2 linked regions of the Homo sapiens genome follow. The protein of the gene in region 1 purifies or fractionates together with the protein of each later gene. This does not show direct contact. Each region holds a gene or a part of one and is shown in the gene's direction. Other genes may lie near its edges.

Region 1 (5,403 bases):
GGGCTCGGAAGGCTGCCACTAAGGCTCGGGCAACTGAAAGCCAGACTCCAAATGCTGACCAAGGGGCCCAGGCCAAGATAGCCTCTGCTCAGACCAACGTAAGTGCCCTTGAGACTCAGGTTGCTGCTGCTGTCCAGGCCCTGGCAGATGACTATCTGGCTCAGTTGAGCCTGGAGCCCACAACCAGGACCCGGGGCAAAAGAAACCGAAAGGTGAGATCTCTGACATTGCCATCCTTAACTTTGTGCTTCTTTTCCATTTCTACCCTTCTAGTTTGTTCATTTCTTCTATAAAAGTTTTACTTTGAGCTAGTCCCTGTGTTCAGATAGGCTGTGGAAGATGCTGAGAAGAAGGTGATATAGTTTCTGCTCCCTAGCAGTTCACAGATTGGTGAGGAAATAAGACATCCATACACTCAGCTACAACCTGTATGTAATACTACTTGTATTTAAATAGTAGTTACCACGTGCCAGGCTTTGTGTTGGGTACAGTTACACAGGGTATGTCTGAATGTCTTGAAAGTAACTCTTACCAACAAGGGATCATAGGTCCCAGTTTTACACTTAAGAAAACTGAGTCTCAGAGAAATGAAGTGACTTGTCCAAGAGGTACCAGCCAGCATAATTGGTGGTAGCCAGAGGAAGAGAAAGACCCTTAGGCTCTTATCTTGAGTTGTTCCTGGCCTGGCAGAGGAACGAAACTCCTTCCTGGAAGACAGTGAAAGATAAGCTCAGGACTCAGGGTGGCCAATGGCAAGGTCAGGATCAGGCTCCACTACAGCAAGGCTGAGGGAGGGGGTTAGAGGGACTTTCTGTCTGGAGCAGGCAAGGTGAGGAGACAGAGCCATCTCTTTCACCTGGTGACTCTGGACCTTCCTTCTTTCTGATGATGAAGTCCAAGCATCTGAATGGGGATGAGAGAAGTGGCAGTAATTACAGGCGGATCCCATGGGGCCGGAGGCCTGCACCACCGCGAGATGTGGCCATTTTACAAGAAAGGGTAAGAATCCAATGCTGTCCAGTCTCTTCTCTTCTTCACTTGCCCTCTTCTCTGCCTCCTTCCAAGTTTTCTGCAAGCATGTTAAGATCTCTCCATCTATTCCTCTCCTCCCAGGCTAATAAGTTGGTGAAATACCTGTTGGTTAAGGACCAGACAAAGATCCCCATCAAACGCTCAGGTAGTGTCCTACCAACCCTCCTCCTTGAGCTCTCCTCTCCACTCCCCTCTCCTCCCATAGTCTGGGAGTAACACTTTATGGCCTCTTTGTTCTGTCATATCTCCACACCTGCCCTCCTTGCACTCTGCCATGGCTGGCATCTCCCATTAACTCACTTCAGGTCTCTGATTGCACTGACCCAACAGGACTGGCAAAAGGGCTGCAGCTCTGTGGCCCCTGCTAAGCTCAGCTACTCTCACCTCTCCTTTTCTACAGACATGCTGAGGGATGTCATCCAAGAATATGATGAATATTTCCCAGAAATCATTGAACGAGCAAGCTACACTCTGGAGAAGGTGAAGGGGCAGTGCTGGCGGATGGGCGCAATGGGGAAGCTTTGAATCGAGCAAAGACATACATGTCCCTTTTGGAGAGAATCACAGAAACATGCTAATCCAGCCCCATTACTGTGTGAATGGGCAGACAGTGGCCTAGGGAGAGGTGTAGATTTGCCATGGGTCACACAGCATGTCAGTGATGAAAACATGGCTAGGACAGAAGCCACTCAAATTAGTCTCAGCTTCTATTCATAGTTGGACATATTCTGCATGTATTTCAGATCTCACCTCTCCCTTGTATCCCCATTTTCTGTCTCCCTAGATTCCTGCTCATCACAAAGATGATGTTGATGACAATAGTACATTTGCTGTGTGTTTACTGGGTGCCAGGCACTTGGCTATGTGCTTTATGTGCATTATCTCACTGACTTCTTACACATGCAGACCCCCTAAGTACACTGGGAGTTTTAGGATGCCCGGAAAGTTCACTGATACCTAAGCTGAATTTTGTGATCTCACAGGCTATTCTTTTACTTGGCAGATGTTTCGAGTCAATCTGAAAGAAATTGATAAGCAAAGTAGCTTGTATATTCTCATCAGCACTCAGGAATCCTCTGCAGGCATACTGGGAACGTAAGCTGGGAAAGGGCTGGAGTGGGAAGGAAGCTTCTGCTTTTATCTGTGCTGCTACCCCTTCTTTGTCCTACTTCCCCCATCCTCTTAGAGAGTCAGGAAAAACAGGGTCTCAAAAGCCCTGTCTCAGCACCTGCACATAGTTGGAGCCCTGCTCACAGTAGTGGCACCTGATTATGATTGACTGAAGGGTATAGGAGCCTAGGGTGGGACATTCCTGCTGTCAGGTTTGCTGTCTCTGTAGAAGCTTCCCAGGAAAGCAGGCCTGTCATTGCTTGCCTCTTCCGATGGAGTGCCTGGCCTGGCTTTGACAGAGTGGTTCTCAAGGAGGGCTTCCTGGTGTGGCTGGATCAGTATGCATGAAGCGCAAGAGTGTCAGTGGGGCTGAAGGTTCTGGGAGAGAAAGAAGGGACTCACATTGACTGAGTGCTTGTGTTGTACCAGGTTGACAGCCATTCTTCCATCTTCTTGGCAACCTGAGGAAGGGAGAATATGATTTTCCCATTTTACTGAATAATAGACCAAGGCTTGCAAGGTCTAAGTGCCTTGCCCAGGGTGGCATAGAGCTGGAAGCAGAGACTGGGCAGAATTCTGTATCTGAGGAATCTGGGAGAGGTTAGCCTGGTGAGCTGGCTGGTGTATCTTTTGCGGATGGCTGCTGAAACATAAACCTTCTTTCTGTCCTGTTGAAACATAAACCTTCTTTCTGTCCTGTTATTCCCTTAGGACCAAGGACACACCCAAGCTGGGTCTCCTCATGGTGATTCTGAGTGTCATTTTTATGAATGGCAACAAGGCCAGTGAGGGTGAGTGGCTGGGCATGCAGCTGAATGGGCGGCCATGGTCTGGATTCCATGTGTTCAATTTCTGTCCCTGTCTCCTCTTGCCTCCCCTCACAGCTGTCATCTGGGAGGTGCTGCGCAAGTTGGGGCTGCGCCCTGGGTATGACTGGGCTCTCTCAGCGCTTGCTGTCCGTGTTGTCCTTTGGCAAGAGAGGATGGTCCTAGGATTGCATCAGTCTGGTGGTCTGGTGGAGCGGGTGGGGTGCTGGACTGGGTAGAGGGCCCAGGGTTCTGACCTGGGTGGATGACGGGCAAATGGTCCTGAACTCTCTGCTGTCTCTCTCCTTAATGTCCTCTGTCTGTTCTAAGCTGAGATGTTAGATAGACCTTCAGGGATCCCTGACAAAGAGGCATCTGGTCTTAACTGCTTGCTTCTAGTGGCCATGTGCTCATTACTTTCTTCACTTCATTGAGACTGCCCCATGTGCTAGAGAGGTCTCTTCCATGTTGGGAAATGCCTCTGCCCTCATCTGGGCAGTTCTGATCTGTGTTCATGGGTTATTTTTCCCATTGTCAGGGTGAGGCATTCACTCTTTGGGGAAGTGAGGAAGCTCATCACAGACGAGTTTGTGAAGCAGAAGTAAGTGGTGTTTGGGGCTTTGTCTGGCCCTGAAGTGTTCTGGGTATACTGATCTGGTTCAGAAAGTGCTTAGTCAGTGCCTTTCTTATACTAGCTTTAGAGGGATGGGCATCCTGTGTCCTAGAACTGATACTGTCTAAAATTCCCATGGGCAGACCTTTCCAGGACTGGGCCAGACTCAACACAAGGCCCTTGCAGTGGGGTGCGCTCAGAGCAGAGGGCCTTAAGAATGGCTCCTCTGTTTACAACACACCCAACAGGAATCTGGGCTTACTCCTCACAGGTGGCATGATACTTTGGCCTTCCTGTGACATCATGCCCTATACATGTCTCCCCTGGAGAAGCCCAAGGGACTGCTTTGCACAGGGCCAGTGGGAAATGGCTCAGTATTGGAGGCCAAGACCATAAACTGTGTTTGGTAGTGAGTCTGGGGCTGGAGGGTCTTAGAAATCCCTCTCCAGGGGCTGTTTGTATTTGTTTGGAGGAGGTTGCCACCTGGTGTCTAGTGCTTAGACAGCAGGGTTGCTTGGTTAGAAACAAGTTTCATTTCCTTTTTCCAAGGTACCTGGAGTACAAGAGGGTCCCTAACAGCAGACCACCTGAATATGAGTTCTTCTGGGGCTTGCGCTCCTACCACGAGACTAGCAAGATGAAAGTCCTCAAGTTTGCATGCAGGGTAAGAGGAGAGCTGCCCGAGCTTGGCATATTAAGGCAATGGGATACCCTTGGCTGGGGCAGGCAATGCACAGGGATGGGCAGGTACAGAGCAGCCTGCAGCTCATATATAAACATGTGGAGCCTCCTTTATGTCCCAGGGTGCTGCTAGATATATAGTTTACATCATCTCATTCATTCTTCATACTTTGTATTAATCAGCATGGGCTGCCATAACAAAATACCATAGACTGGGTGGATTAAAAAACAAATTTATTTTCTCATAGTTCTTGAGGGCGAGAATCCTAGGTCAGGGTCCACGAGGGTCAGTTCCTGTTGAAGGCTCTCTTCCTGGCTTGCAGATGGCTGCCTTCTTGCTGTGTCCTCACATGGCTTTGTGTGTGAGAGAGAAGAGAGCAAGCTTTCTGGTGTCTCTTCTTATAAGGACACTAATCCTGTTGATCAGGACCCCACCCTTATGGCCTCATTTAACCTTAATTATCTCCATAAAGGCCCTATCTCCAAGTACAATCACACTGGGTGTTAGGGATTCAACATACGAATTTGGGGGCGGGCACAACCCTTCAGTTCATAACATATTTACGCTCTATCATTTCCTGTAATTATAAAGACACTTAGGCTAAGTGAGGTTAAGTAACTTGTCCAAGGTCATATAGCACGTAAGTCAGCAGAGCTGAAACTGGAGTTCAGAACTGACCCATGATAGAGCCCCAATAACTGAGAAGTTTAAAAAAGTATTGCTACTAGTTTAATACAAAGCCCGTAGGTTAATACATGATTACTAGGGTTGTTTTCTTATTATGATTATCATCCCCATTTCAGGTGCAGAAGAAAGACCCCAAGGACTGGGCTGTGCAGTACCGCGAGGCAGTGGAGATGGAAGTCCAAGCTGCAGCTGTGGCTGTGGCTGAGGCTGAAGCCAGGGCTGAGGCAAGAGCCCAAATGGGGATTGGAGAGGAAGCTGTGGCTGGGCCCTGGAATTGGGATGACATGGATATCGACTGCCTAACAAGGGAAGAGTTAGGCGATGATGCTCAGGCCTGGAGCAGATTTTCATTTGAAATTGAGGCCAGAGCCCAAGAAAATGCAGATGCCAGCACCAACGTCAACTTCAGCAGAGGAGCTAGTACCAGGGCTGGCTTCAGCGATGGTGCTAGTATTAGCTTCAATGGTGCACCC
Region 2 (4,451 bases), on another chromosome or scaffold:
TGGGTCCCATGGCAGTGACCAGTCAGGAAGTCACCCCAGAGGAGGCTGAGTTTGGGCTTTGAAGGCTGAGAGGAAGAAACAGCAGGAGCAGTGGGACAAGAAGCAAATTGTCAGGAGTTGGGGCAGGGCAGAGCTAGTCAAGCAGGCCTGGTGGACAGGTGGGGGCTCATCTAGAGGACTCAGAGCCCACCAGAGCTCCCCCAGGGTAGGCATAGGAAGGGCAGGAGAGTCTTGGGGGACTGGGGACAGCACCTGACAGGCTGGCGGTTGGGCAGCCCATAAAAGTTAATGCCACATAGCATGCAGATGAGTGGCCCCTGTTCAGGCCGGAGCAGCAGTGATGTTCAGCAACCCCTCCAGTGAATGGGGTCACAGAGTGAGGGGGCACTGAATGTGGAAGGGCACTCAGGGTCACAAAGTTCAGGGCAGAACAAACCCTCAGGTGACAGGAGGGAGCAGAAGCTGACCTGTCCAGCTATGCCACTGAGGCCTCAGAAGGGTTCAGGGAGGTTAGGTCAGGCTGGAGGCAACCTCGTCCTGCCTACACTTCCCTGAGAGTTCCCTCTCCCTAACTGATGATCTCTACTGCCTCTCAGAAACCTGGTCAGGCCCTCCACTCCCCCGGTACTTTACCTGGTCATATTCCTTTTTTTTTTTTTTTTTAGACAGAGTCTCACTCTGTCACCCAGGCTGGAGTGCAATGGCATGGTCTCAGTTCACTGCAACCTCTGCCTCCCGGGTTCAAGCAGTTCTCCTACCTCAGCCTCCCGAGTAGCTCAGACTACAGGCGTGTGCCACCACACCCGGCTAATTTTTGTATTTTTAGTAGAGACGGGGTTTCACTATGTTGGCTAGGCTGCTCTCAAACTCCTGACCTTGTGATCTGCCCGCCTCAGCCTCCCAAAGTGCTGGGATTACAAGCGTGAGCCACCGCACCTGGCTTTATCTGGTCATATCCTTTTTGGGCTTCAGTTTACCTTCCTGAAATGGGTAAAGGGAAGGTGGAGTCACTTCTTTGGTGCTTGGTCCCCTGCCTCTATTACCAAGGCACCTGAAGGAGAAGGGCCTGTAGTGATAGGGAGATGAGCACACAGCCCAGGCTTGGGTGGGCACTGGTGATTCCTGGAGTTGTTATGACAACTGGGGAGCTGATGGGGAAGTGTGGGGTCCCCGTAGAAACAGGGTCAGTTACCATGGGGTCTATGGGGACCCTAGAAGGAAATTCCCATTTTCCTTAGTGATAGTAAAAGGGATTGGTCAGCTCTTGAGCCGCTTGCTTGAACCTACTTCCATTCTGTGGAGTGTACTTTCATTTCAATAAATCTATGCTTTCCTTGCTTAAAAAAAAATAGTGTCCAGGCGCGGTGTTTCACGCCTGTAATCCCAGCACTTTGGGAGGCTGAGGCGGGCAGATCACGAGGTCAGGAGATCAAGACCATCCTGGCTAACACAGTGAAACCCCATCTCTACTAAAAAAAAAAAAAAAAAAAATTAGCCAGGCGTGATGGCGAGTGCCTGTAGTCCCAGCTACTCAGGAGGCTGAGGCAGGAGAATGGTGTGAACCTGGGAGGCGGAGCTTGCAGTGAGTTGAGATCGCGCCACTGCACTCCAGCCTGGGCCGGCGACAGAGCGAGACTCCGTCTCAAAAAAAAACAAAAAAAACAATAGTACAAGGGGATGGTCAGGCCCTGGGGCAGGGTGGGTGTCATGGAGATCAGAAGGTCCACCCTTTCAGCACCCCCTCTCCAGGTAAGTGGGAGAGACTGGCCCAGCCACCCAGGCACTCAAACCACTATCCTCAGTTGTCCCTGCCCCAGCAAAGTCCCATCTTCCTGCTTCATCCCATGGCCTAACATCCTCCAAGCCTGACCTCCAGTCCTGGTGATGTAGCCAGAAGTCACGTTTAGCTTGACATTGTCCTCCCCGTCCTGATACTGAATGGGGGGACCCCCTAGGCCTGGGATAGGCTATTCCACATAAACACCACCCTGTCCCACTTCTGCTTGTCTGTCCCTGAAGATGGAGTGCTCACTACCGCCCAGGCAGCTCTGACTGAGAGGAGTCACCCACTCTTGAGCTGTGCTCTTCTCTCCCTTCCTGCTCCTAGCTCTTCCCTGGGGTCCATTAATGCCTCTTACTGTCACTCACAGAGGGGGCTGGGGGTTGTTGCCTGGAATTCAGGGAGCTCGGGCAGGCCAGAGCCCCTGGATCTGGAACTCCACTCACCTTACCCTGACCTCGAGTTGGGTAGGTGTGGCTGGAGAACTTTTACCCAAGAAGCAAAGGGATGGTTTTAAAGAGGTTAATGTTAAGTAACAAGCTACTGAGAGTTAGAACGGGGACTGGACTCCGGAACCCATGCCCTCACCTGATTCGGTTGGTGAGAGGCACCAGACAGGAATGGGTCTTACAAAGGGTGCTGATGCCCCTGATGGGGGCATTCCAGCAGAGCAAACAAGAGCAAAGCACAGGCAGACCTGTGGGGGTAGAGACAGTGATTCACGCCCTTGGGCCCAGGCATCCAGCGGGTTTGGGGTATGGAGGCTGCAGGTGAGGTGGGCACCACCCTACAGGGCCTCAGATGTGAGCTTGTGATAGGGCATGTGACTGGCTGATCAAGCCGTGATGGTGACAGATGTCTACTCGAGGCCCATTGTGCAATGGCCTTGGGGTACGTCAGGCAGGGTCTGGGAGCAGCATGGTGTCAGGCAGCTCAATGATCCCTGTCAGCTTGGCAAACAAGGTGTACTCCCTGTACTCCCCACCAATGTCACAACCACCAGCCCTCAGCCCTCCAGGTTACTTCAGAATTCCAGAGGAGTGGCAGTTCCATGCCCACCCAGGGACTGTTTGAGCCTAAGCAGCCCTCGGGAGCCCCTCACCCCCAGCACTCTCAAGTGCCCTCACAGCTAGTTGGGCATAAGTTGGGGTCTCTGTGGTGGTGCACATGAGACCCCCTCTTCCCAGGGACACCGGCCTTCCACATTCCCACAACCTTCTCCCCTGCTGCAGGACCTGGGCATCACTTACCTATGGACCCTGGAGAGGGCTTGGCAGGTGTGGCTGCTCCCGACCTGCCTTCAGTGGGGGACAGGGTTGGGGCCCTGACCCAGTTAGGTTGGGGCAAGGGGCTGGACTGTCCCTGACCCGTGTTCCTGCTCAGAGCTGGCACAACCGACCAAGGCAGAAGCTCTGAGAGGGGCATGGGAAGCCTGAGCATCATGGCCACTCCTCCCAGGCCCTGGACCCTCACATGCAGCACTGCCACCATGCTCTCGTCCCCTGCCATTCTCTGCCCTCTGACCCTGGCTCCCTGAGGGACTCCCGTACCCCGACACATTGCAGTCTCAAGCCATGGGGCCTAGGTCAGAGTTGGCCTGAGGTCTTCCAGGGAGAAACAGTGAGACCCAGGGAGGCAGGACAGGCAGCCACCCCACCCCTGCCTAATACTGTGCTTTGGAGACCTCGTCATCCCCTTTCAGAGCCCCTGAAGGCTGTCTTGATTGTCCCAGCCCTGAACCCAGCTCAGCCCAATCTGCTGAAAGTTTACAGGACTGGACAGGCCAAGGGTGTGGTTCTAGGGACAGAAAGTACTATCTACATACTCTAGGAGTATGTAGAGATTGAGGGACCCACCCCTGTGCTGGGAAGGCTGATCAAGGTGATGGCCACCAGGAGGGTGGGAGGTTCCTGCTCAAGTACCAAAAGCCCAAGTCACACAAGGCAGTGGGGCATAGGGTGGGAAAAGGCCTGGATAGGAGGATGTGAACCACAGAGGGGGAGAGGTGGAAGCTGGAGAAGCAGGTTCTGGTTGGACCAGCAGCCTGGAATGCTGCTCAGCAGTTGAGCCTTTATGGGGAGGGGTTAGACACGGTCAAATTTGGGCTTTCAGGTGCTCAGTAGAGCTGCAGCTGGCAGGAAGACTCACATTTTGAGTGACTAGCTTGACTGAGGGGCAGAAGAGAGGAAGACAGTATTGGGACATTTTTGAAGGCAGCTAGGGGTCTCTGTGGGGCCACTGAGGCAAGGATCGGGGCCCGCATGGTCCTCATGGGCTGGCTTGCTAGCAATCATGAGTGGTCCTGGCCTAGAACTAAGGTCTGGCTTTTAGCATCCTCAAAGGTACACTGAAGACAAAGTAGTAGATAAGGCATCCCCTGTGGGGCCTCCTGTTTCCCCATCTGCAATGGGAGAGGTTCAGAAGAAATGGTCCAGGGCCCCTGGCCACCTCTGCTGTCTCAGGATCTGGGTATTTTGGGCTCCTTGCTGATTGTTCGGGAGGAGGCTGCCAGCAGGAGAGGGTGGAGAGGTCAATAAATGTAACTGACAGACAAAATGTCATGGTTGTGTGGGTCTGCACCATGGTGGCCCTGGCACCTCTCTGAGTTGTCTGGGCTTCAGATCTGCACTAAACTGTACCAGGGAGTTCCCCAATCACAGGGTGGACGGCT

What was found. Proteins that work in one complex are often made in the same cells at the same time.
Region 2: the proteins of TRO (region 1) and NBEAL2 purify together in Homo sapiens (tandem affinity purification; one large-scale study listed by IntAct). This does not show direct contact.

What each region holds. Positions count from the first base shown.
Region 1 is NC_000023.11:54,923,557-54,928,959, forward strand, and holds part of TRO (trophinin), read left to right. Parts: coding exon 1-212; intron 213-894; coding exon 895-999; intron 1,000-1,113; coding exon 1,114-1,177; intron 1,178-1,432; coding exon 1,433-1,512; intron 1,513-2,035; coding exon 2,036-2,127; intron 2,128-2,853; coding exon 2,854-2,933; intron 2,934-3,026; coding exon 3,027-3,069; intron 3,070-3,486; coding exon 3,487-3,549; intron 3,550-3,748; exon of another isoform or gene 3,749-3,879; intron 3,880-4,110; coding exon 4,111-4,225; intron 4,226-5,046; coding exon 5,047-5,403. UniProt on the Homo sapiens protein: Could be involved with bystin and tastin in a cell adhesion molecule complex that mediates an initial attachment of the blastocyst to uterine epithelial cells at the time of the embryo implantation. Directly responsible for homophilic cell adhesion.
Region 2 is NC_000003.12:46,982,666-46,987,116, forward strand, and holds part of NBEAL2 (neurobeachin-like protein 2), read left to right. Parts: intron 1-4,451. UniProt on the Homo sapiens protein: Probably involved in thrombopoiesis. Plays a role in the development or secretion of alpha-granules, that contain several growth factors important for platelet biogenesis.